3 separate regions of the Homo sapiens genome follow, and all the other regions are linked to region 1. Evidence: fine-mapped expression QTL. A gene starts in region 1. Each other region holds a variant in brackets. All regions are shown on one strand. Distances are between the middles of the regions.

Evidence for each region. PIP is the estimated chance that this variant, and not a neighbour inherited with it, causes the effect.
Region 2: its variant is fine-mapped to the expression of SMARCD2 in cerebral cortex (GTEx, PIP 0.98).
Region 3: its variant is fine-mapped to the expression of SMARCD2 in whole blood (INTERVAL, PIP 0.97).

The regions. Positions count from the first base shown.
Region 1 is chr17:63,838,782-63,846,958 of GRCh38, forward strand. SMARCD2 (SWI/SNF related BAF chromatin remodeling complex subunit D2) reads right to left here and starts at 3,904. Exons shown (of 13, transcript NM_001098426.2): 1 at 3,678-3,904. The coding sequence starts at 3,893. RefSeq lists enhancers at 508-802, 2,827-2,906, silencers at 508-802, 3,627-3,856, 4,227-4,396 and a cis regulatory region at 5,506-5,895.
Region 2 is chr17:63,896,806-63,904,982 of GRCh38, forward strand. No RefSeq gene overlaps it. Among named protein-coding and RNA genes, the nearest start is that of CSH1, 4.3 kb to the left of the region's middle. The variant A/G (reference allele first, on the strand shown) is at 4,877.
Region 3 is chr17:63,812,297-63,820,473 of GRCh38, forward strand. It overlaps DDX42 (DEAD-box helicase 42), which reads left to right. Exons shown (of 18, transcript NM_203499.3): 15 at 932-1,158; 16 at 3,267-3,377; 17 at 4,572-4,670; 18 at 5,398-7,021. The coding sequence ends at 6,102. It overlaps FTSJ3 (FtsJ RNA 2'-O-methyltransferase 3), which reads right to left. Exons shown (of 21, transcript NM_017647.4): 19 at 7,959-8,142; 20 at 7,783-7,877; 21 at 7,137-7,698. The coding sequence ends at 7,506. Among named protein-coding and RNA genes, the nearest start is that of PSMC5, 11 kb to the right of the region's middle. RefSeq lists an enhancer at 7,529-8,177. The variant G/A (reference allele first, on the strand shown) is at 3,742.

The DNA of each region.
Region 1 (8,177 bases):
CAACCAGCCAACCAAGCCCGGCAGGGTGGAGACTTGTACCAAATCAAAGGACCCTCCCCCACCCCAGCATCATGGAGATGAGATTCTTCCCCAACCTCTTCATCCCGCACTAAACCCATGTTCCCAACACAGAGGGTCAGATTCTTGACCAGATGCGGAGATGGAAAGAAACATGACCCACAGACGTGAGGATGGGGAGAGGAGGAGCAGGGTGGGACGGAAGTGTTTGGGAGAATAAAAAGTTCAAAGTGGGGGGCTCTGGGGCTTTGGGAGTCCTGCCAAAGTCTCTCTGCATCAGGAAGAGATTAATCAGAGCTGTTGAAAGGCAAAAGACAGCCTCTTTCTCTGCCTTAAAGATTGTTCTTTCTCTGGCCTGAGATTATAGAAAAAAACTAAGTGTGGCTACAGCTGTAAGCCCAGGCCCAGACATCCCAGACTAGTTTTTCCTAGTGCCTGAGACAAAGACAGGGAAGAACTGAAGCAGTGGGTCCTGCAGAGGTGAGCGAGGGCCCTGTGGTCCCCAGGAAGCTCCCTGCTGCAGTGTTCACAAAACCTGCAGCACCACCCATCCCTCCTGGGCAGGTGCTCCGGTAACAGGAAGTCCCAAGACAAGGCCTCATAGGCAGGGTCTGGAATAGGCTCCACCCAGACATCTGCTCCAGGTTTCCTGGGCCCAGAGCCCCTGGCTCACTCAGGGCCCCAGGGGAAGGCTGCTTATAGTTCAAGTCCCAGCTGAGCCTTGCCAAGCTCCATAGGGCTTATAGGCGCTAGCAACTCCTCCCACTTCAAAAAACAAAACAAAACAAAACAAACAAAAAAAAACAACTCAGGAGTTAAAGAAAAAAAAAAAAGCAGTCCAGCACTCTGAGCCTCCCTAACTCCCTGCCTGCAGCAGGACCAGGTAGGCCTGGATCAATCCCCTGAACCCCAGATGAGGAATCCAGGGCTCCGGTGAGCGTGCTTTGCCCTGCCCCAAATGTGGCCCTGATGCTCCTGGAACCTGGGCCTGAGGGCCTCAGTTGGGGAACATACCACCCACTCTCCCATGAGTAAAAAGGATTTTGAGGCCGGGTGCAGTGGCTCACGCCTATAATCCCAGCACTTTGGGAGGCCGAGGCGGGTGGATCACAAGGTCAGGAGTTCGAGACCATCCTGGCCAAGATGGTGAAACCTCGTCTCTACTAAAAATACAAAAAAATTAGCCGGGCGTGGTGGTGGGCGCCTGTAATCCCAGCTACTCAGGAGGCTTGAGGCAGAGGATTGTTTGAACCTGGGAGGCGGAGGTTGCAGTGAGCTGAGATCATGTCACTGCACTCCAGCCTGGGCGACAGAGTGAGACTCCGTATCAGAAAAAAAAAAATTTTTTTTTTGAACTTTTTGAACTCTCTGGAGTGAACCCAGCAATCTGAGGTTTTTGTTATTTTGTTGCCCAGGCTGGAGTGCAGTGGCAGGATCATAGCTCAATGCAGCCTTGAACTCCTGGACTCAAGCAATCCTCCTGCCACAGCATCCTGAGTAGCTGGGACCATAAGCGCACACCACCATGCTTGGCTAAATTTTTTTTTTTTTTTTTAAGAGATGATGGTCTCACTATGTTGCTTAGGCTGGTCTTGAACTCCTGGTCTCAAGTAATCCTTCTGTCTGGGCCTCCCAAAGTGCTAGGATTACAGGTGTGAGCCCACCATATCCTGCCCTGGAGGTTTTTTTCTTTTCTTTTTCTTTTTTTAGGTTCCTCTGTTAACTGTGATCCACAGCTAGAACCACCCTCTGGAGGAAGGGAGGTCATCACTTCCCTTCTTTCAACTATTTGCTCAGCTTGGGCCTCAAATTCTCACTTTTCAAGTGCATCTCATGAGCCCTAACAGACAGGAACCCCTTTGTTTCCCAGATCTCAAGTCCCTTCTCCTGGCAGTCATACAACTGGACTTGGAAAGAAGGCAAATAGGATCCTCTTCAAACTCAGCCAAAGTTAGCTGGCTGGGTTCTCCTTCCCATCTACCTCTCCTGCCAGGAGGAGGAAAGCTAGTGGGATGGGAAACCCAGACTCAGGGCCATCTCCTACTTCCGCACAGCTAGCAGCCCAGGCCTAACCAGCCAGCCAGCTTGGCCTTGCCACAGGCCCAAGGCCACCCCCCACCAAAACATGTGGAATCCATCCTCTCAGGGGCTGTCCCAAGGGCACATTTCCTATGGCTTGCATGCCAAGGAAACTGGAGCGGCTTGTCTGTTCCAGGTCCTTCCAAGGCCAAAGGCCCACAGATGGTGCCCAGGCCAGGTCTCAGTGGGCAGGCCCAAGGGCTACAATGAATGATGCAGGGAGCCCTCAGCAACACCCTGGGCCCATGAATCCCCAACGGGGACAGCAAGGTGGGAGAGATGAGCCCCAGCTGGAATCCCTGGGACCAGGTCTGTCTCTGCCCATACCCAGACTCTCTTTTCTCTTGAGAAAGGAGGAAGAATGAGGAGTAAGAAGGAAAAAAAAATCCAGTCACTGTCCCTAGTTAAGCCATCTCCTTAGAAGTGAGGGCCCAGTGGGGCAGGTAGGCTGTGTATACTCCACGAGGATCCCTAAGGACCTCTGCCTGGAGACATGAGTCGAAAACAGAGGAAGCCCACAGCAAACCCGTAGATGAGCAAGAAGCCAGTGTCAAATGCTTGGGCACATGGCTTCGGACGTGGTGGAGTTAGAACCTGAAGGCCAAATAAAAATGCAGAGAGGGTGACAAGGCAGATGGGCACAGTTTCCAAGCCCTCTGGGGCAACCTGAACAGCAGACTAGAGCACTGGCAGGGTCAGGCTGAGGTCCTCACACACTGAGCAGAAGTCGCTGCTTTGCAAGGGCTTTTGAAGCTGCAATCTGAGCAGCTCTCAAAACCCCAAAGGGGTCAGGACAGCACTCTTTGAAGCAACTCTCGCAGACTCCTCCGGCCCCAGACCAGCAGGGCTCCACTCTGCACGTCCAGACTAATCAACTCCCGGACACGATGACAGGAGGCAGAAAGCCCAGAAGAGAGCCGGCCTGTGACTGGGCTGGGCCTCCCCTCAGGCCAGGCCACCACCGTCTCTGGTCTAAGCTGGAGTCCTCCCAGCGAAGGCGCCTGGCCCTGCCTCAGGAGTAAAGTCCGCCCGTGCACAAGCTGGAATCCCCTGGCCCTAGCCTCAGCGTCCCGTGCCCGTGGGAAGCCAGGCTCCTTCCTCCTTATTAGCAGCCGGGAGCCATCTCAGACACGCTAGAGCTCCGCCAGTTCCCAATCAGAAAAAACAGGGCAGACTTGGACTGGGACCAAGGCCGATGCAGGGTAACCCCGGTTTCTCAGCGAGGGCCCTTTCCCAAACTTTCTCATCACTTTCCAGCCCTCCTACCCTAGACTTCTCAACCCACCCGCCACAATTCACTGGCTCCCCAAACTCCTCCATCTCCCAGTCACTCGGAATCCCTGTGCCGCGGAAGCCCCCAGGCCTCCCAGCTGCTTCCAGCCCTCCGCTGCAGAACCTGCTTCCCCTTCCCACTTCTCCACCGCGACCCGCCGCAGCCCGAGGGTCCCGGCCCGCCCTCCACCGTCTCCCGGAGTTCCTCATGCATTCCCCAGGGCCCTCACTCGAGGCCCCTTCAGCCGCCGGCCCGGGCGCCCTCGCAGCGCCTCTCGCCCCCGTCCGCTCGCGTCCTCCTTGCTCACCTGGTACTGCGCCGCGGGGCCCGCGGGGCCCATGGGGCGGAAGGCGGCGGCCCCGGGGCCCCCCACGCCTCCTGCCGGACCCGGTCCCCGGAGCGCCGGTCCGGGCAGCATGCCGGGTCCCGCGGGGGGAGGCGGCGCTCCCAGGGCCGCAGCCACGGCGCCGCCGCCAGGGCTTAGCGGGGGCAGCGGGAACCCGCCCGCGCCTCGGCCCGACATCGCTCCGTCCCGTCCCGCGGTGCCGCGATCCGGACTCCGGGCTCCGCGTCGAGTCCACTCCGTGCTCTGTGCTCCGCGATCCGGGACTTGGCGATCTTAATTCCGGGTTCCGGGATTTGTCGATCCGGGCTCCGGGATTTCCTAATCCAAGTTCGCGAGTTCCTCACAGACCCGGTTCGGGACAGATTCCGCTCCTGCCCGGGAGATTCCGGATCCAGGATCTGCTGCGGGCCCGCCTTCCGTCCCCGGCCTCCGGAGGTTTGGCCGCCCGAGTCGAGTTACCCAGAGGCGGCTACGAACTCCCTGCCCCGCCCAACCCAGCCCAGCACTAGGCCCCGCCTCTACCTGGTGCCCAATGCTCGAGTGCCTCCTCGAATCCTGCCCCTCGCGAGACCCGCCCCCAGCGGGCACCGCCCCTAACTGCCGACCTCAGAGCCCCACCCCCCCACCTTTGGCCCAGCCTTTCGTCGGAGGGGCGGGAGCGGAAGCTGCGCGCGGAAGCGCCGAGTGAGGCGCGGGGTCAGAGGTCTAAGGTCACTTAGGGGCTTCACAGTGAATGAGCCGTTGCTACTACTCTCTCCCGGTATAGCACCCTCACCGAATTCCGCGGCCACACTCCCCGAAAATAGTTTTGTCAAGTCTCCTTTCTGCATCTTCGGCGTTAAAGACTCAACTCAGAGTCGGTAGCTGTGGCTCACGCCTGTAATCCCAGCGCTTTGGGAGGCTGAGGCGGGCGGATCCCCTGAGGTCAGAAGTTCGAGACCAGCCTGGCCAACATGGTGAAAACCCCGTCTCTACTAAAAATACAAAAATTAGCCGAGTGTGGTGACGGGCGCCTGTAATCCAAGCTACTCGGCAGGCTGAGGCAGGAGAATCGCTTGAACCTTGGAGGCAGAGGTTGCAATGAGCCGAGATCGCCCCACTGCACTCCAGCCTGGGCGGCAAGAGTGAAACTCATCAAAAAAAAAAAAAAAAAAAAAAAAGACTCAGCTGCTCTGTGGGGCAGAACAGCAGCCAACTCAACTTCCTGTAAAAGCTCATGCTGGTAGCTCGGAACTGCCAAGGGACCTAGGAGGCTCCAGACTTGACCCAGCTGGTGAACGGTCGACTTGGCCAAGGCTGAGTTCTACCGCACATTTTTAACGTGGCTCCGCCTCACTTTAAGGAAGCCTGGTACTTTACTCCCCAGAAAATGCTTCTAGTCAAAAGAAATTTGGCTTATGAGAAACCTCCCCGCAGTTTAAAAAAAGAGGTCTTTCTCCAGTATTTATAGCACTTAATTTTCAAAAATGCAGTATCTTTTCAGGTACACTGTGCTGTATCAAAGTATTCAAAAATGCGTCAGCTGTGCCAGGGAGCCTACCCTCTGATGGTCTGGATCTCCTCGCCGTGATATGGACCAGTGCTGCTTAAACTTTAATGAGCACATAAAAAACACTCGAGGCTCTTATTAAAAATGCAGATTGTGGCAGGGCCCAGGACTCTGCATTTGTAACAAGCTGCCAGCGATGCTGTTGCTTCTCAGACCACACTGTCAAGAAGCCGGGATCTAGACTTTTTTTTTTTTTTAGTTTTTTTACTATAATTGCTTTATTTTTCCAGCCCCAACCAAGTAATACTTCCTTCCTTGCATCATAGCACCCCAGATCTTTTTTACAGTATAGTTCTCCAGTGCTTTTTAGAAATTAGTTCTCCTCATGCCTCTAGTGATAAACACCGCTGCTGCTGTTTTCTTACCTCCTGAACTTAGAGATCCCACTCTATTGCCCCAAGAGTCGATAACCTGTCAGTCTGGGGACTGGCCACTGGAATTGTTAAAGTCACTGAATCATGGCCCCTCCCATCCCTGTAAAGTGGGTTAAGAGTTCATGATAAGGCAGCTAATATCCATTTCAATCCTTTTAAGCTTCTAGAACAACAGTAATTCTCAAAGTGATAGGGGCAGTGGAGAATCAGAGTCCTCTGGGAAGCTACTCCAAAATACCTCCGCCAGCCACCCCTCCAATCCAATGGCTCTCAGTATTGTATTTGAAAAATAAGCTTCCTAGGTAATTCTGATGCGACCCAGTGGGTCGCATCAGAAAACACAAGATTTTTTCTACCCTAGAAAAGGGGCAAGCTAATAAGTGCATTTAAAAGCAGATCAGCTGGGTGGAGTGGCTCACACCTGTAATCCCAGCACTTTGGGAGGCCAAGGTGAGTGGATCACTTGAAGTCAGGAGTTCGAGACCAGTCTGGCCAAGATGGTGAAACCATGTCTCTACTAAAAATATAAAAATTAGCTGGGCGTGGTGGTGCACACCTGTAATCCCAGCTACTCAGGAGGCTGAGGCACGAGAATTGCTTGAACCCAAGAGGCAGTGGTTGCAGTGAGCAGAGATCGTGCCACTGCACTCCAGCCTGGGTGACAGAGTAAGACACTGTCTCAATAATAATAAAGCAGATCAAACGGTTAAATATAACTCAGTTCCTGTCAATCCCTTGTTTAAAACCCTCCCCAGCTCCCCATTGCTCTTAGATTGAATGTCACACTCCCTCCTGTGACATTTAAGGCTCTGCAGGACCTGGTCCCTGCTTACCTCCTTGGGTTCATTTTAAATCACTGCCTTTGGCTCTCCAAGCATTGGCCCAGATGGTCTCCTTGCAGTTTTTCAAACTACCCATCCCCTTCCCATCTCAGAGCCTCTCTGTTCTCTCACACCCTACTTCCCACCAAGTGATTATCACAGTACATCATTACTTAAGTGTGTGCTGATTTACTGTCTGATGTGGCTCACCCACTAAAATATAAACTCTACGAAGGCAGGATCTTTTTCTCTCTCAATTTATCTTTTTATTTTAAAATTTGTATTTTTTTAAGACAGTGATTTGCTAGGTTGCCCAGGCTGGCCTCAAACCCCTGGGCTCAAGTGATAGTTCCTGAATAGCTGAGTAGGTATACACCACACCTGGCTATTTTTTTAAATTGAAGTGAGATTTACGTAATAAAATTAACTGTTTGAAATTGCACAATTCAGTGGTATATATTACATTCACAATGTTGTGCAACACCTCCTCTACCTAGGTCCAAAATTTTGGGGTCCAAAATAATGACCCCAAAAGAAAACTCCATCCTCATTAGAAGTTGCTCCTCATTTCTTCCTCTTCCCAACTTCTGGCACCCACCAATCTGGGTTCTGTCTCTAGATTTATCTATTCTGGATACTTCATATAAATGGAATCATAATAGGTGGGTGTTGGGCATGGCTTCCTTCACTTAGCATAATGTTTTTGAGGTTCATCCATTTTGTAGCATGTATCAGTACTTCCTTTCTTCTTATGGCTGAATAATATTCCATTGTATGTATATAACACAATGTGTTCATCTGTTTGTCTTTGTATTTATTTGTTTATGACAGCATCTCGCTGTGTTGCCCAGGCTGATTTCAAACTCCTTAGCTCAAGTGATCCTCCTGCCTTGGCCTCCCAGAGTGCTAGGATTATAGGCATGAACCACCATGCCTGGCCCTATCCATTTATCTGTTGATGCGCAGTAGGGCTACTTCTACTTCTTGGCTATTCCAAGTAGTGCTGCTATGAATATATATTTGTATTTGAGTACCTGTTTTCAGTTATTTGGGGTATATACTGTGTCTCCCTTGATCCCTGTTGTAACTTAACAAATATGTATGAACAGACAATGTTTGAGTGTAGTGGGAGGGAATGATAAACAATAATATAATATCAGTTAATATCAGATATATCAGATAATATAAACAATGAGTTAACTGTGTTATGATAAAATATCCTTAAGGTGTTAGGGAGCAAATAGAGATATCTGAGGCATGGTAGAGATAAAAGGAAGATTTCCTACACAGTAGGCAGAGAATAGGTAACATTTACTGAGCATTTTCTACGTGAATTAGCTCATTTAATCATCACAACACATAGGAGGTAGATACCATATATGAGGTACACACTATTTTTACCTCTTTTTTTTTTTTTAAAGAGTTGGGGTCTCACTCTGTTGCCCAGGCTAGAGTGCAGTGGCATGATCATAGCTTGACTAATGGGGCCTCAAACTCCTGGGCTCAAGCAATCCTCCAACCTCTAAAAACTCCCGAGTACCTGGGACTACAGACACCAGCCTCTATGCCTGGCTCTATCTCTGTTTGAGAAATCAAAGCATGGAGATCCAGTCACTTGCCCACCCTCACTGTGATGGTGCTAGGATTCATCAAACCTGTTTCTGATCTGGCTCTAGAATCCAGTCTAGGGACTAACCATTACTTACCACCGATTTTT
Region 2 (8,177 bases), 58 kb after region 1:
CACCCAACTTGTCCTCTCTTTAAGGGTCAGGTGGGTGCCCTCTGGCTGCAGGCCATGTTGGTCAACCTGAACGCGGGGAAGGCTGTCAGGATAGCCAGTCCTTGAGACCCCTACCGACCCCATTCCACTCTCTATCCTATTCCTTTCCTCCTCCCCGCGTGTTTAACTTCCACCCACCAGACAGAATGTGTGTGTTGGGAAAAGGGGCCAAGCACAGCCAATAGATTGTGGGGGTTCTGAGCACCATTGAGTCCTGAATTCCACTTTTGCTGATGACTCCTGGGCCCACCTGAGTCAGCTGGATGCAGTGCTAACACTGACCACTAGAGAGAACCAACCCCACACATTGCTCTCCCCTTTCCCTGAACCTTGGGGCGGAGGCGGTGGGGCTCCCCCAGGTCCCTGGGGATGAATAACCCAGACTCAAGGTATTGCCCCAGCTCCTTGGACCTGAAGCAGAGATACAAACCAAGAAACAGAAATCCCGGGAACAGACACGGACCACAAGCGCTTCCTCCCATAGTCCTGAAACCAACAGAGAATCTCAAAGTTGGAAGAGCTCTTGAAGATTTGAGTCTCTTCCCCAGCTTTAAAACTCAGAACACATCACGCCGAAAGAGGCCCTATCCAGCCATGGAAGCCCGTCCTCTTTTGTCTCTTCCTCCTTTCCAGACCTGTGTAGAGCTTATCCAGTTGTCAAAGGCCTGCCTGTGCATTCTCACGTCTGACCTGCAACTTGTCTTGTGTAGGAGGTATGAGTATCATCCCATTTCACAGATCAGGAGACTGAGGCTCAGAGAGACTGATTGCATGAGCTACCTCAGCCAGGGCAGCAGATCTCCACAACCTGGCTCTTCCCACATTGCGTCATTTAAAGTCCTTTCTCCAGGCCGGGCATGGTGGCTCATGCCTGTAATCCCAGCACTTTGGAAGACTGAGGTGGGTGGATCACTTGAGGTCAGGAGTTCAAGGCCAGACTAGCCAACATGGCAAAACTCCATCTCTTAAAAATACAAAAGTAGCTGTGTGTGGTGGCAGAAGCCTGCAATCCCAGTTACTCCGGAGGGTGAGGAGGTAGAATCGCTTGAACCCAGGACTCAGAGGTTGCCGTGAGCCAAGATTGGGCCATGGCACTCCAGCCTGGGCGCCAGAGTGAGACTCCATTTCAACAACCACAACAACGACAACAACAACAACAACAACAACAAAAGTCCTTTCTCCAGAGCAGGTGGTGTGGTGCTACTCAGTTATTTAGTTATTTTAGTTTCCTTTCTTTCTTTCCTTCTTTCTTTCTTTCTTTCTTTCTTTCTTTCTTTCTTTCTTTCTTTCTTTCTTTCTTTCTCTCTCTCTCTCTCTCTCTCTCTCTCTCTTTCTTTCTTTCTTTCTTTCTTTCTCTCTTTGTCTTTCTTTCTTTCTTGTTTTTGATGGAGTCTCATTCTGTCTCTGAGGCTGGAGTGCAGTGGCATGATGTTGCCTCACAGCAACCTCCACCTCCTGGGTTCCAGTGATTCTCCCGCCTCAGCCTCCCTAGTAGCTGGGATTACAGGCGCCCGCCACTATGCCGGGCTAAGTTTTGTACTTTTTAAATAGAGACGGGGTTTCACTATGTTGGCCAGGCTGGTCTCGAGCTCTTGACTTTAGGTGATCCACCCTCCCTGGCCTCCCAAAGTACTGAGATTACTGGCATGAGCCACCGCTCCCAACCCAGTTATTTCAGCTTCTATATCCCTCTGAGTGCAGGGATCCTGCCCCCAACACAAGGGGCCCTTTGCCTGATTTTGTCTTTCCATAAGGGGCAGATTGTTCTTTCTCAATTCTCAGGTGAGAATGGCCCAGTGGCATGGGGTGCCTTGTGGAAACCTCACAGCAGGAAAAGGTGAAGGCAGAGAAGGCCAGGACTGAGCCTCCTGTCTCCTGGTGCCCAGAGTTGGGGCTATTTCAATATAATCTGGAGGTCACAAGCATCAGATGCCCCCAGAGATGGCAGCAGGAAAGAGCACCCTCTCTAGTGGTGAAATCTTCCCCCCGAGTTTAAGAGCATCTAGCACTTGACTCTGTAGAAACACAAGCAAACAAACAGGCAAACGCTTCCAGAAGTGGTTGGCAGTGGTGTTGGCAACCAACATTGAACACCCACACCCCTGTGGCCTAGGATGTGAATGCTGGGGCCCTGCCATCTCCCCACTTTCAGAGCAGAAAACAGAGCTCCTTTTTCTGCCGTCATTCCTGAAGCATTACTGGACTAGCACCCCAGACTCATCATCTGCTGGGAGGGCACTGTGCTGTGAGCTGTTCTCCAGGCAGGCCTGTAGGAGGATCCAAGAGGGGTGTCATCGATGATACCAGCTCTGAGAAATATGGGGTCAAGGGAGGGTGGAGTCACCACTTTCCCCTGCTCCTTCCAGCACCAGCAAAGAGGAGGAGCCAGGTGGGAATGGAAGAGGGTCCCTGAGCTCCAAGTAGAAGAGGGTCCCTGCCTCCCCCACCATCCTTCCTCCAATGTCAGCTGGGACAGGGAGCCCCCATGACAGGGTCTTTTAGCCAGTGCTGGGGACTTAGATGTGGATTTTTGGCCATGGAAGAAGTCTGCAGCCTCCCTTAGGAAAGAGGGTGGCAGGGGCCCTAGTTGGGGACCACTACATAACTCCGCAGGTGGGCACACGGGTGGCGAGGCTCCCCATGCAGGTTACTGCCAGGAACATGTGGGACCTGCCAGGGCAGGGGAGTGTCTCCTCTCACCTCTCCATTTCTGTTGACCGCAGAATTATGGTGACTCAGAGGACTCTAGGAACCCCTGGGGAAACACCTTTGTAAGGGGTTACCATGCCAACCATGGACCAGAGGGAAGAACTGAGGCCCACAGGTGTGGGTAGAAGTCAATGATCATTTTCTCTAGTCTAGATCTTCCCAGAGCCTTGAGCAATGGAGACCATGTCTATCATTCATTGCTGGTAAAAAATCAACTTTGAATTAGACTTGGGATTCCCCTGACAGTACTGGGAAGTCGCTCACTGTTGGGGCATCACTTGAGGCCAGATCCCTGGCTGCTGCAGGCTGAGAGACTACCCAACAAGAGCCTCTATGTGGCCAGTGGGGAGAGGCTGCGCTTTGCACCTCTGGCGTCAGCTTCAAAAGGCTCAGGATAGGCCGGCGTGGTGGCTCATGCCTGTAATCCCAACACTTTGGGAGGCTGAGACATGTGGATCACCTGAAGTCAGGAGTTTGAGACCAGCGTGGCCAACATGGTGAAACTGATCTCTACTAAAAATAGAAAAATTAGCGGGGGTGGTGGCATTTGCCGATAATCCTAGTTACTGGAGCGGCTGAGGCACGAGAATTGCTTGAACCCGGGAGGCAGAGGTTGTCATGAGCCGAGATCACACTACTGCACTCCAGCCAGGGCGAAGAAGTGAGACTGACTTTGTCTCAAAAACAAGCAAACAAACAAAGAAAGAAACAAACAAAACAACGAAAAAACCAAAAAGAAAAGTAGAAAAATCCTCATCTCTGAGTTCACTGTTACCTAGCTCCTTACCCACCGAGAAACAAACATGGGAAGCAGGGGCCCCAGGGCCACCATGGACAGAGCAGCATTATATTTTAGTCCAAATCCATAAGAACACCCTAGGTTTCATCTGGGACTCCCTGCCCATACGGAAAGTGGGAAAGAAGAGTTGGCTCAAAGCAGGGAGCTGCTAGTGCTCCCTTGGGAAGGAAAGCTGTTGGGTGAAGGGGACAGCATTTGGGTGAGGGGAGGAGAGGGAGCAGGGGGTGAAGGTAGGGAGGGAGTGTGGTGCACTGAACTCAGCTCTTTGGGAAACTGTTTTTGCAGACAAGCCATGGTTAGAGGAATCCAGTTGCTCTGCCAAACAGACCTGGCTGGAAGGGATGGAACACACGCTCGCCTGCGTCCCAAAGGGAAACCCAGCTCCAGCCTTGGTGTGTACCTGGAATGGGGTGGTCTTTGACCTTGAAGTGCCACAGAAGGCAACCTAGAACCACACTGGAACCTACTGCTGCACAGCCACTAACCAGCTGGGCTCTGTCAGCAAAGACATTGCTGTCATTGTTCAAGGTAACCTTTGCTGCCCTGCTGCCAGGCCCAGGATGGAAACCCCTCAGGGGTTTGGGATTCTTATCCAAGCATGAAAATAAGAAAGATTCTACTAGGTTGGGAAGAATGAGACTCAGAAGTGGGCCTGGTGGGCTGGGGTGGGTGATCTTTGTACTCTCAGACTTTCCTAACTCTATCTTCTGTGCTTGGGCAGGACTGGATGAAGGAATCAGCTCTACCCTCTTTGTCATTATTACCGTTGCCCTTGGAGTGGGTGTCATCACCATAGCACTGTATTTGAGCTATCGGCCCTGCAAAGTAGACAGGAAGAAATTGCTCTACAGGCAGAAAGAGGAGGACAAAGAGGAGGAAAGCCAGTTTGCTGTTCAGGAAGAGAAAAGTGCAACTCATATAATTGACAGCTATTTGATTGAATGAGAGTTCTGCTACTGTGGTTTCCCAGGGATGGGAGAAGGGATAGAGGAGAAAGGAAGAAACACAATGGCAGGCTGCATTCCTATTTGTGTACATCTGTCCTGTAAAACGGTGTTTCAGGCCCCCATGCCCCATGTCCTGTGTGTCCAATATGTCCACAATCTCACCATTCTCTCTCTCTCTCTTTTTTTTTTTGAGATGGAGTCTCACTGTTGTCGCCTAGGCTGGAGTGCAATGATGCGATCTCGGCTCACTGCAACTTCAGCCTCCTGGGTTCAGGTGATTCTCCTGCCTCAGCCTCCCCAGTAGCTGAGATTACAGGTGCATACCACCATGCCTGTCTAATTTTTGTATTTTTCGTAGAGATGGGGTTTCACCATGTTGGCT[A/G]GGCTGTTCTCAAACTCCTGACCTCAAGTGATCCGCCCACCTTGGCCCCCCAAAATGCTGGGATTACAGGTGTGAGCCACTGCACCCAGCCACCTTTCTCTTTAGAGCTCACCCTAGTCATTAGGAATCTCAGTCTCAATGTTTGATTTGTAAGAAGGCCTCTTGCTCCTTGCCAGGTGCTTCATCAGTCCACTCTTAGATCCAAAAAAAAAAAGAAAAGATCTTGCCGTTTCTTCATGGTTCTCACTGCCCTTTTCTCTTAAACATCATACTACAGTCAGGCATATCTTAGAAATACAACTCATATTTCATGGGTTTTTGATTACTAACTGGGAGCTAAATTTGTAGTCCATGGACAGGACTTTGAAGGGAGTAAGTATCAAATATGGGGCCAGGAATCAGAGCTCTGTTCCCATCTCCACTTTCCCTTGCTCCCCTGACCTGGGCTTCTGGAGTGCCAGCTCCCAGAGCTGAGCTTGTTGACATCATTAAGGATCAGTGGCAAGCTGCAACTCAGTAACCATCTGTTGTGGGTCTTGGGGGAGTATACAGATGGTAAGAAATTCCACTTCGGGCCAGACAAGCATCGTATCTAGCCCAGTGTTCTGTCTCTGAAGTAGAAGGTAGAGTTCTTCCATGAAATTGGCCTCTTAGGTTAAGAGCTCCAAACATCTCTGAATTCCTTTTCATAGAGTGATCAACTGTGAGTTCGCATTTGCCAGTTTTCTTTTTTTTACCCATATAGGTGTCTAGGTTAGAGTTGCAATGTTTACTCTCTGTTTTCATCAAGAAGTGCATATTTTTTTCTGACTGTAAACAATTTCCTTGAAGCTTCAAGAGGAATCCTCTTGTGAAAATGTTCATATGATTTTATGGTTCAGCCTCCTTCCCTGTCCTTCGGAAAGAGTATATTCACCCTCGGAGAAGGCGTGAGGAATCACAAAACCAGATCTTTTCTCCCAAGTCAGTCAAGAAATGTTCACTGGAATGTTGCTATGGTAAAAATAAAAGTGGTTTTATGATGTCCAAATGCAGTTCCCTTCCCTTCTGTGTCATTGCTGAAAGCTCTTGTTATGTCAAATGGTTGCATTTTATCACTTTTTTTTTTTTTCAGATGCAGTCTCGCTCTATTGCCCAGGCTGGAGTGCAATGGCGTGATTTTGGCTCACTTCCACCTCTACCTCCTGGGTTCAAGGATTTCTCTGCCTCAGCCTCCCAAGTAGCTGGGATTACAGGTGCCCATCACCATGCCCAGCTAATTTTTTGTATTTTTAGTAGAGACAGGGTTTCACCATCTTGGCCAGGCTGGTCTTGAAGTCCTGATCTCGTGATCCACCCACTTCGGCCTTCTAAAGTGCTGGGATTACAGGTATGAGCCACCGCTCCCGGCTGCATTTTATAACTTTAAGTACAATTTCTAAGGAAAAAATACCGTGTTGATAGCATAAACAACCAGCCCGGGGCAGGGGGTGCATTAGCTCAGGGTGGCAGCCTATGTAAACTGCTTTCAAAACTGAAATTCAGGCCGGGGCGGTGGCTCAGCGTGTAATCCCAGCACTTTGGGAGGCTGAGGCGGGCGAATCACTTGAGCCCCAGAGTTTGCGAATAGCCTGGGCAACATGGCAAACCCCATTTCTACAAAAAACACAAAACTTAGCCAGGTATAGTGGCACGTGCCTGTAGTCCCAGCTACTTGAGAGTCTGAGGTGGGAGGATCACTTGGGCGCGGGAGGTGGAGGGTTGCAGCGAGTTGAGATCATGCACTGCACTCCAGCCTGGGTGACATAGCCAGACCCTGTCTCAAAAGCAAAACAAAGGAAACACAAGCAAAAAGAAAAGCTAAAGTTCAGACTTCCAGATAGAGAGAGGTCCATAGCTTTCCAAATTGCAGATACCAGCTAGAAAAAACCATGGCATCAGACAGCAGAGGGAAAACGTTTTCCCATTCTTCCCAGACCTCCCCTGAGTCTGGTGCTATAGATTAAGTGTAAAAGTAACCCTTTGGTTTCACCACATACAAGGCAGTGGGGATACAGTGGTGAACAAAACATTGTTCCTGGCTTCCACAAATTTATTAGGAAAGCAAGACAAACAAGTAGGAGATTACATTTGTGCATGAACTCCTATGACTGGGAAAACAGATTGTTAAGAGAAAGCATAACTCGAATCAAGGAAGGCTTCCTGGAGGGACACGAAATATCTTGACTTTATAAAATAGCATCATCCCCGAACATGACCTTTTCAACCTCAATGTTTCCACTAGGTGGAGCTACTGCTCCTTCATCATGTGAGTCTAATATAAATCATCCACCTTCCCTGAATTGAGCATTTGGGGAAGTAAGTTAAGAAGCAGGTTTAAGAGACAGGAGTATACAGCCACACCATGCAGGGATCCACAGCCATTTTGGTGTCAGGATCAGTCGCATCAGGGCTGTAGATATCCTGTATCTGCAAACCCTGCCTCATGGCCTCAGTGCCTTGAAGCACAGCGAATCCAACAAGGAAGGGGAAAATGAGCCAGGCATGGTGGTGTGCACCTGTAATCCCAGCTACTGGGGAGGCTGAGGCAGGAGAATCGCTTGACTGTGGGAGGCAGAAGTTGCAGTGATCCGAGATCGTGCCATTGCATTCCAGCCTGGGCAACAAAGCGAGACCCCATCTTGAACAAAACAAAAACAAAAGCAAACAAAACCAAAAAGGGAGGAAGAAGGGGGCCACTTGGACTTTCTAGTTCCAGCAGGGCGAGCCTGGAGGCTCAGCCGGCTGCTGCCTTTGCTTCTCACTGCTACAGGGTGTCAGTGTTGACAGATGGTCCCACACAGTACCCTCAAACCAAGCGGGTCTGCAGATCTGGGTTCCCACCTGCTGTAGATCTCTGAGGGAGGATGATCTGCTTCTTCGGGGCCTGGTCCAGCTCTGCAGGTGTCCTCTTGCTGGGGTTTCCAGCTTTCCAGTTCTTAGAGCTCAGTAGTTTGGATGAGCCGTCCCGCAAAGCTCTTCAGAGTAGGCTGGGCTTTTTCCCTTGTAGACTTGGAACCTCTGTTCACTTTCCTTCCCGAAGGATCCACACAACCAGAGATCAGGCAGGCCTTTCTCATTGATTCTTTTTTTTTTTTTGGAGACGGAGTCTCGCTCTGTCTCCCAGGCTGGAATGCAGTGGCACGACCTCGGCTCACTGCAACTTCTGCCTCCTGGCTTCAAGCAATTTTCCTACCTCAGCCTCTGGAGTAGCTGGGATTACAGGTGTGCACCACCACACCTGGCTAATTTTTGTGTTATTAGTAGAAACAGGATTTCGTCA
Region 3 (8,177 bases), 26 kb before region 1:
CTGATGGAAAGACTGTTGGCCTGGCTGGCCATCCCCTCCCAAACCCCCAAGGAAGCAGCAGTTCAGCACAGGGATCACAGTCTGGAGCTCTAGATACCACTTTTCACTTAGTATTTCTCTCTAATCAAAGAATCCCTGCAGCTAGAAGTCACTCTGGGAAAAAAGGCAGTGAATGCCCTTATTGTATGTCTGAATATAGTAGATACCTTACCCTTACATTGATCTACTATACACAGCTTAGTTGGGCAACTTAACTCAGGATGAGAACAGTTTTTGGAATATAATTTCTGGATTTGTTCTGTCAAGTTTTAATAACTACCCTTAAACACTGATATTTTTTCCTAGAAAGGAGAGAACTTCTCAGCTTCATGACACATTTTAAATATATATTCCCAGTGCAAGAGAAGAGGGCATGGCAGATTACTGATGCAAAAGATAAAAGTCCCAGTCGGGCACGGTGGCTCACACCTGTAATCCCAGCATTTTGGGAGGTGGAGGCGGGCGGATCACCTGAGGTCAGGAGATCGAGACCATCCTGGCCAACATAGTGAAACCCCGTCTCTACTAAAAATACAAAAATTAGCTGGGTGTGGTGGCGCGTGCCTATAATCCCAGCTACTTGGAAAGCTGAGGCAGGAGAATTGCTTGAACCAGGGAGTCGGAGGTTGCAGTGAGCCGAGATCATGGCACTGCACTCCCGTCTGGCAACAGAGCAAGACTCCGTCTCTAAAAAATAAAAGTCCCTTACACTAGAAGGCCTAACATCATAGAATCTGTGGTGGTGACTTAACATGCCTGTATCTCAGCTCACCAAACCCATGCGCTTTGCCTAGATAAAGGAAATGTGGCTTATTAGCACTAGCATTTCTGGTTACTTTGATCTTCTGACTACAGATGAAGAATAAAAGAATTTGGTTGCTTTTTATTTCAGCCCGTGGTCTGGACATTCCTTCAATTAAGACTGTCATTAACTATGATGTGGCACGAGACATTGATACCCACACGCATAGGATTGGCCGCACAGGAAGAGCGGGTGAGAAAGGTGTGGCCTATACCCTACTCACTCCCAAGGACAGCAATTTTGCTGGTGACCTGGTCCGGAACTTGGAAGGAGCCAATCAACACGTTTCTAAGGAACTCCTAGATCTGGCAATGCAGGTGAGGGGCTGGGCACACTTTCAATTGCTCCTGGTTATAAGACCAAGACATTTTAGCAGTCCTGGAACAGATAACATAAAAACTTGACAAGAAAGTTGGGTGGCTAGGAGGATGTGGGGCTTATGAGGTACAGATAGGAATTGTGAGATACTAAAATTCATCTAGTCTTATCTGGTCTTCTTCTTTCAACAGCATCTGTTTTGAAAAGCTATTCCTTTGTGCTAAAATCTGTCGCTGTAATTTCTACCCCATAGCACACTTAGGAGTAAATTTAATCTCAAAGATGGTTACTATTCTCCTTACTGCTCTTCCCCCACAAAATTTTTCTTCTGGGAGGCTAAAAATGTGTGATGCCTTTAAAACAATATGTGTATAGTATAGTGCCCCCCCACCTTTTTTTTTTGAGACAGAATCTCACTCTATCGCCCAGGCTGCAGTGCAATGGCACGATCTCGGCTCACTGCAACCTCTGCCTCCTGGGTTCAAGCAATTCTCCTGCCTTAGCCTCCCAAGCAGTTGTGATTACAGGCGCCCACCACCACGCCTGGCCAATTTTTGTAATTTTAGTAGAGATGGGGTTTTGCCATGTTGGTCGGGCTGGTCTCGAACTCCTGACCTCAGGTGATCCGCCCGCCTCGGCCTCAACCTCCCAAAGTGCTAGGATTACAGGCGTGAGCCACCGTGCCCAGCCTGTATGGTGCCTCTTAACTGTTCCTTGCAGAGATCTCAGACCTCTGACCACACTGATTGCCCTCTTCCAGGTGTGCTCCAATCTAAAGCTAAGTGAGGCATTCTAACAAATCAAACCTGGAGTCATCTGAATCCATGCTGTCCCCAAATTACAAATGGGTTCGGAACACTTTCTGAGAGCAGAAACTGTTAAGAGTTTGTCAAATGCCTAGGCCAGCTCACACAACTGGTACAACCCAGCTGCAATGTGGCAGTGCCCAAGTTTCTGGTCCTAGGAGTAAAGGACCTGCACTGCAGGAGAGAAGAGAATAATGTTTCCTCCCCTGCTCCTGAGCACAGAGAGCTAGTCCTAAATAAACTTTTAAAACAGGACACATTTTGACTTTGGCATTTTCTTCCATTTCTTTTTGTACCTCAGGCTTTCTGTGCTCAGGACTTTGTCCAAGCCTGCTGCCCTACCTCTCAAGCACTTTATTTTGCTGGTAATATGTGATTGTCAGATAAAACTTTAACCTTCCCAGAGACATTTGCTTTTTTTTTTTTTTTTTTTTTTTCTTTTTTCTGAGATGGAGTCACACTCTATCACCCAGGCTGGAGTGCAGTGGCGCAGTCTCAGCTCACTGCAACCTCTGCGTCTCCGGTTCAAACAGTTCTCCTGCCTCAGCCTCCCAAGCAGCTGGGATTAGAGGCATGTGCCACCATGCCTGGCTAATTTTTGTATTTTTAGTAGGGACGGGGTTTCACCATGTTGGTCAGGCTGGTCTTGACTCCTGGCCTCAAGTGATCCGCCCACCTCGGCCTCCAGAGTGCTGGGATTCATAGGCGTGAGCCACCGCCCTGCATTCTTAAGAGAATGTGAGTAAATATGTTGAGTGGCAATGGTCAAGTTCAATGAAAACTTTTACGCTCTGCGGGTAAATAAAATTTTCAGTTGTGTGGCTACCATCCTTTCTGGGAGTCTGTCCCTATAGTCAGTTCTGATAAGCCTCACTTCACATAGCATTTTTCCTTTGCTTCTGAACATACCAGTTGTTTAAGTTCCAAATGTTTACGTCCAATAATACATGGTTTGAGAAATAAAATATAAGCTCATTTTCCTCAAGGAAGTTAGAAGTAGCCAAAGTTACTCCTCTGGGTTTGAAGCTTACCTGAACAACTTCCCTTCCAGGAGAGCCTTGAGGGAGGGAGCACTGTAGGAAGCCTTAGATAAGGATCTCAGCCACTTTTCAAATTTGGTGGATTATGCTACCAAAGAGAAACCAATCTGTGGTTCCTGTGAAAATTCCTCCCTTAGCGTAGTGCTGGCTGAAAATTAAGCAAAAGTTCCCCCTTCCCACTTAATTTCCTCTTTGTCCTCGTTCTCTTCTTCTGTTCTTTTCTCCCTCCCTTGACTTAACCTTGAATTTTGTTCAATGCAGAATGCCTGGTTTCGGAAATCTCGATTCAAAGGAGGGAAAGGAAAAAAGCTGAACATTGGTGGAGGAGGCCTAGGCTACAGGGAGCGGCCTGGCCTGGGCTCTGAGAACATGGTGAGTCTAGACTACTACAGTAGTGCCTTTATAGTTGGTCTCATGTCCTGAAAGTCATTAGGAATATTCTCATCTACCCAGGAAAGCCTCAGTGAGTTTAAAGCCCTGTCTAGAAGGGAATTTGTATTTAATCTGATTTGAGTCAATGCAGTGCTCATTCTTATGGTAACTTTCTATTGAAGAAGCATCTTTGTGTACTTGGTTGACTAGGCTTGCTCAGGAAATTATTCTAGATTAGCAGTGATCTCACACTGTGGTCCCTGGACCAGCAGCACATGCAAACTCATCCCCAACCCCAGACCTTGTGAATCAGAAACTCTGGAGTTGGGGCCCAGCAGTCTGGTTTTATAAGCCCTTCAACACT[G/A]GCCTAAAGCCTGCTGCTAGGTAAATGTTGCCAAAGGGTCACTGTAAAGTCTAGCCATATCTTGTCATTAAACTCAGGAACGGATCAGGAATTTCCAAGTCGGGAGCTAGTTTTTCTCACAAACCAGGTAACAAATGTACCCTTTTGGTGGCCTTTCTTAACTGCCTGTTTTCTGTCACCTTGATTCCAAGCCAGGGAAGAAAGCTGCCAGTATACTTTTCTGGAGCATTAAACTTGGCATCTTTGTAATTACATACTCTGTTCCCACATTATAATAATAATGATGATGATGCATAATAATAGGTAATATTTATTGAGCACTTTATATGTGCCAGGACCATTCCAAGCAATCAGATGTTTTGGCTCAGTTAATCTTCAAAATAACTGAATGGAAGTTAGTACAGATAACAATGCTGAGGCACCTAAGGTTACAGTGACAAGTGTTCAAGCCGAAATTCAGACCCTTCATGGTCTTGATTCAGGGCCTGAGCAGTCACACAATATGCTATTCAGGGCCTTTTCATCTTTAACGTAATTTTTACTTAATTAATTGGAAGTGTTTATGTAAATACATGATCAACTTTGGGCATAATCTGATTGCATTTCTGTTTAATAGGGTTAATTTCCAGAAATAGAATTTCTGGGTTGAGGGCATAAGCATTTTTAAATGATTGTCACTGTGTCTTTTCTCACAAAGCAGTAGCAGCTTTCTAAAAGTATCCAGTTCCTTTGTAGCTCCCACTTCAAGGGTTTTCATAATGAGGCCTAGTCTATAGCAGTGAGCTTTCCTGCTTATTTTTTCATTCTCATAGATGTGTTTATTTTTTTAGGATCGAGGAAATAACAATGTAATGAGCAATTATGAGGCCTACAAGCCTTCCACAGGAGCTATGGGAGATCGACTAACGGCAATGAAAGCAGCTTTCCAGGTCTGAAATAAGCATTTCATTAAAAGCACTTTCAGCAGTAACTCTTGGGCAGTGACAGAGGGGCTTAGTTTTCCTGGTTGTAGCTGGGCGCCTAGGCTTGATGCTAGATTTAGGGTCTTCACGCTGCTTGGATTTTGAATATAAACCTAACAGTAGCTTAGTTGGAAATGCAAGTTGATCTAGAGAACCCCTTGTGCTGGTCTACTTTGAGTCACACTTGGGGCCTGGGATTGTTGTCCTGCAGCAGGGTGTGTGTTCCCTCCCTTCCCAACAGCCTGAAGTGTTGCCCACCTCCCAGGCACCCACCTCCAACTCACTTCTGAAGCAAAATTTACTGATAGTCACACTAAGGTGAATCGATAGAATGAGTTCAAGGCAGGTTTTGCTGTCAAACTTAAATTGCAGTATGAAAATTTTTTTTAAGTTTTCAGAACTTTTTGGTTTTGAATGCAGATAAATGTGCTAAATACATAGATGCTTTATTCTAGCCAATCAGGCTATAAAAGTACATTTCAGAACACTGGGGGTCCATCTCTCCACAGAGATCCACAAGTTTTCCTTTATAGCACAAGAACAAAAGGGACCATACTGTGGGGCCATCAGGACACTAAACTCACAGTGCCAGGATAGCACAGAGTTTCTGTAAACCTCATCATTTGCCAAGTTGTATATTCAAGTTTCTTGAACTTGCTATCTTACCTACTCCTGATGTCTCTTTCTCTTTCAGTCACAGTACAAGAGTCACTTTGTTGCAGCCAGTTTAAGTAATCAGAAGGCTGGAAGTTCTGCTGCTGGGGCAAGTGGGTGGACTAGTGCAGGGAGCTTGAATTCTGTTCCAACTAACTCAGCACAACAGGGCCATAACAGTCCTGACAGCCCCGTCACCAGTGCCGCCAAGGGCATCCCAGGCTTTGGCAATACTGGCAACATCAGTGGTGCCCCTGTGACCTACCCGTCTGCCGGAGCCCAAGGAGTCAACAACACAGCTTCAGGGAATAACAGCCGAGAAGGGACTGGGGGCAGCAACGGGAAAAGAGAGAGATATACTGAGAACCGGGGCAGCAGCCGTCACAGTCACGGAGAGACTGGCAATCGGCATAGCGATAGTCCACGTCACGGAGATGGTGGTCGCCATGGAGATGGATACCGCCATCCAGAAAGCAGCAGCCGTCATACTGATGGCCATCGGCACGGGGAGAACAGACATGGAGGAAGCGCAGGCCGGCATGGGGAGAACCGGGGTGCAAATGATGGTCGGAATGGGGAAAGCAGGAAAGAAGCTTTTAATCGTGAGAGCAAGATGGAGCCCAAGATGGAACCCAAAGTGGACAGCAGCAAGATGGACAAGGTGGACAGCAAGACAGATAAGACAGCTGACGGCTTTGCTGTCCCAGAGCCGCCTAAACGCAAGAAAAGTCGATGGGACAGTTAGAGGGGATGTGCTAAAGCGTGAAATCAGTTGTCCTTAATTTTTAGAAAGATTTTGGTAACTAGGTGTCTCAGGGCTGGGTTGGGGTCCAAAGTGTAAGGACCCCCTGCCCTTAGTGGAGAGCTGGAGCTTGGAGACATTACCCCTTCATCAGAAGGAATTTTCGGATGTTTTCTTGGGAAGCTGTTTTGGTCCTTGGAAGCAGTGAGAGCTGGGAAGCTTCTTTTGGCTCTAGGTGAGTTGTCATGTGGGTAAGTTGAGGTTATCTTGGGATAAAGGGTCTTCTAGGGCACAAAACTCACTCTAGGTTTATATTGTATGTAGCTTATATTTTTTACTAAGGTGTCACCTTATAAGCATCTATAAATTGACTTCTTTTTCTTAGTTGTATGGCCAGGCAGTCCCCATTTTAGGAGTTGGCTTCTGCAAATTCAATCCATTGAGCTAACTGTTGGGGAGCAATTTGGTAGTTGTAGACATTTGCAGGGAAGGGAGATGTCTGATTCTAAATGGGAGTTGATGCTCAGGTCCCCAGCCAGGTTTGCATCCAGCCCTGAGACATGTAGGAAACACCTTTCAGACCCAGGCTCTGAAGATTCCCAGAAGCCACAAGGATTGAAGGGAAAAGGTGATCCTGGTAACTGTTCCAGGATTGCTCCAGGTTTGAGATGGTATTGCTAAATTTAAAATTAAACAAGAAACCCAACAACAGCTTTTAAAGTGTCTTCTATCTCATTGTATTTTTTTTAACTTGCCCCAATGATAGAAAAGTCTTTTGCTGAAATGATTTTGATGATTTTTGTTTATCGTTTATAAAAAGGAAAAGAAATATACAAACTTTGACTTTTGTGACTTTGTGAAGGTTTCTTTAAGATGTGCATTCCTTTCTGCTTGCTCTCTAGTAAATGTTTTACTACCGGGACCTGTGGATCGTTTGTCATTTCTGTCTATGAATTGGTACATATTAAGAATAGTGCCGCACACAGTGTAGGGACAGATAGGGAAGTGCTTATTAAAACTGTCAGAAAAGACAACTCTTCCATTATCCTGGTTTTATTCAGGAATAGGATGGGGGTGGGGAGGGCTTAAGTGGCCCACACGTCCAGGTGTAGACTGACTACATTGAGTATCGCTCCAACACCGAACTTCCCTTTAACGGTTTAAAAAAAGGGTCATGAGTGTCAACACAGTTCAGCAGTGTTTTCATGGGAGACCTTCAGGCAGGCAGGAGGACATCCTCCTCTCTGCTCAGGACCACCACGGGAGTTCTAGGCACTCCACCTCACTGTTCTTCAGACAGCTGTGATGTGAGCAGGGGCTAGGCCGGTAATCAAGGGGGCCAGACTGAGCCATGCCACACCCTTCCTCCTAGTCCCCATGCTCTCCTGGGAGCCTGGCAGCTCTGCTTACTTCCGTTTGTGTTTTTTCTTTTGTTCCTTACGTTGCTGTGCTCTTTGGTCCTTCTTCATCCTTGAGTCCACCACCTTGAAATGACCTCTGACTCCAGCTGGCCGGCGCACTTTGCGGCCCACACCTTTTTTGGCTACAACGTAGGTGACATGGCGTTTCTCCTTGCCAAGCCCAGCCTTCTTGTAGAGACTACAGGGGGGAAGAGAAGAGGTTAGAGGCTTGCTTTCTGCTGCACTTTTAGCCCTGTGTACCTTTGTGGTGTCCTCCCATTACCTTCGCAGCTGTGCCACTTTCTCTCGTTCTGAGATGTCCACTGTGTTCACCACGGCTTCTGCCTTCTTCCTGGTCTGCTCCAGCCTCTTCAGCATCTGCAAAGGAACCTGTCAGGTGACCTCTTCCCCATCCCCCCACCCCCACCCCACCCAATCTCTGGAGGCCCCATCACTTACCCTCCTTTTCTTTCTAGCCTTAGCCTCAGCCACCTTCTTGATGGGACGTGCATTGATTTCCCGCCAGCGTTTCCGGTAATGCTCCACCTCCTTCTTACCAACAGGCAACTGTCGTATCCGGTGCTGCTTTTCCTCTTGCACAAACCACTCCGGAAGCTCCCCCTCATCCTCATTAAATGTGTACCTGAGTGGAAAGGACATCTGTCTAATATCCAACAT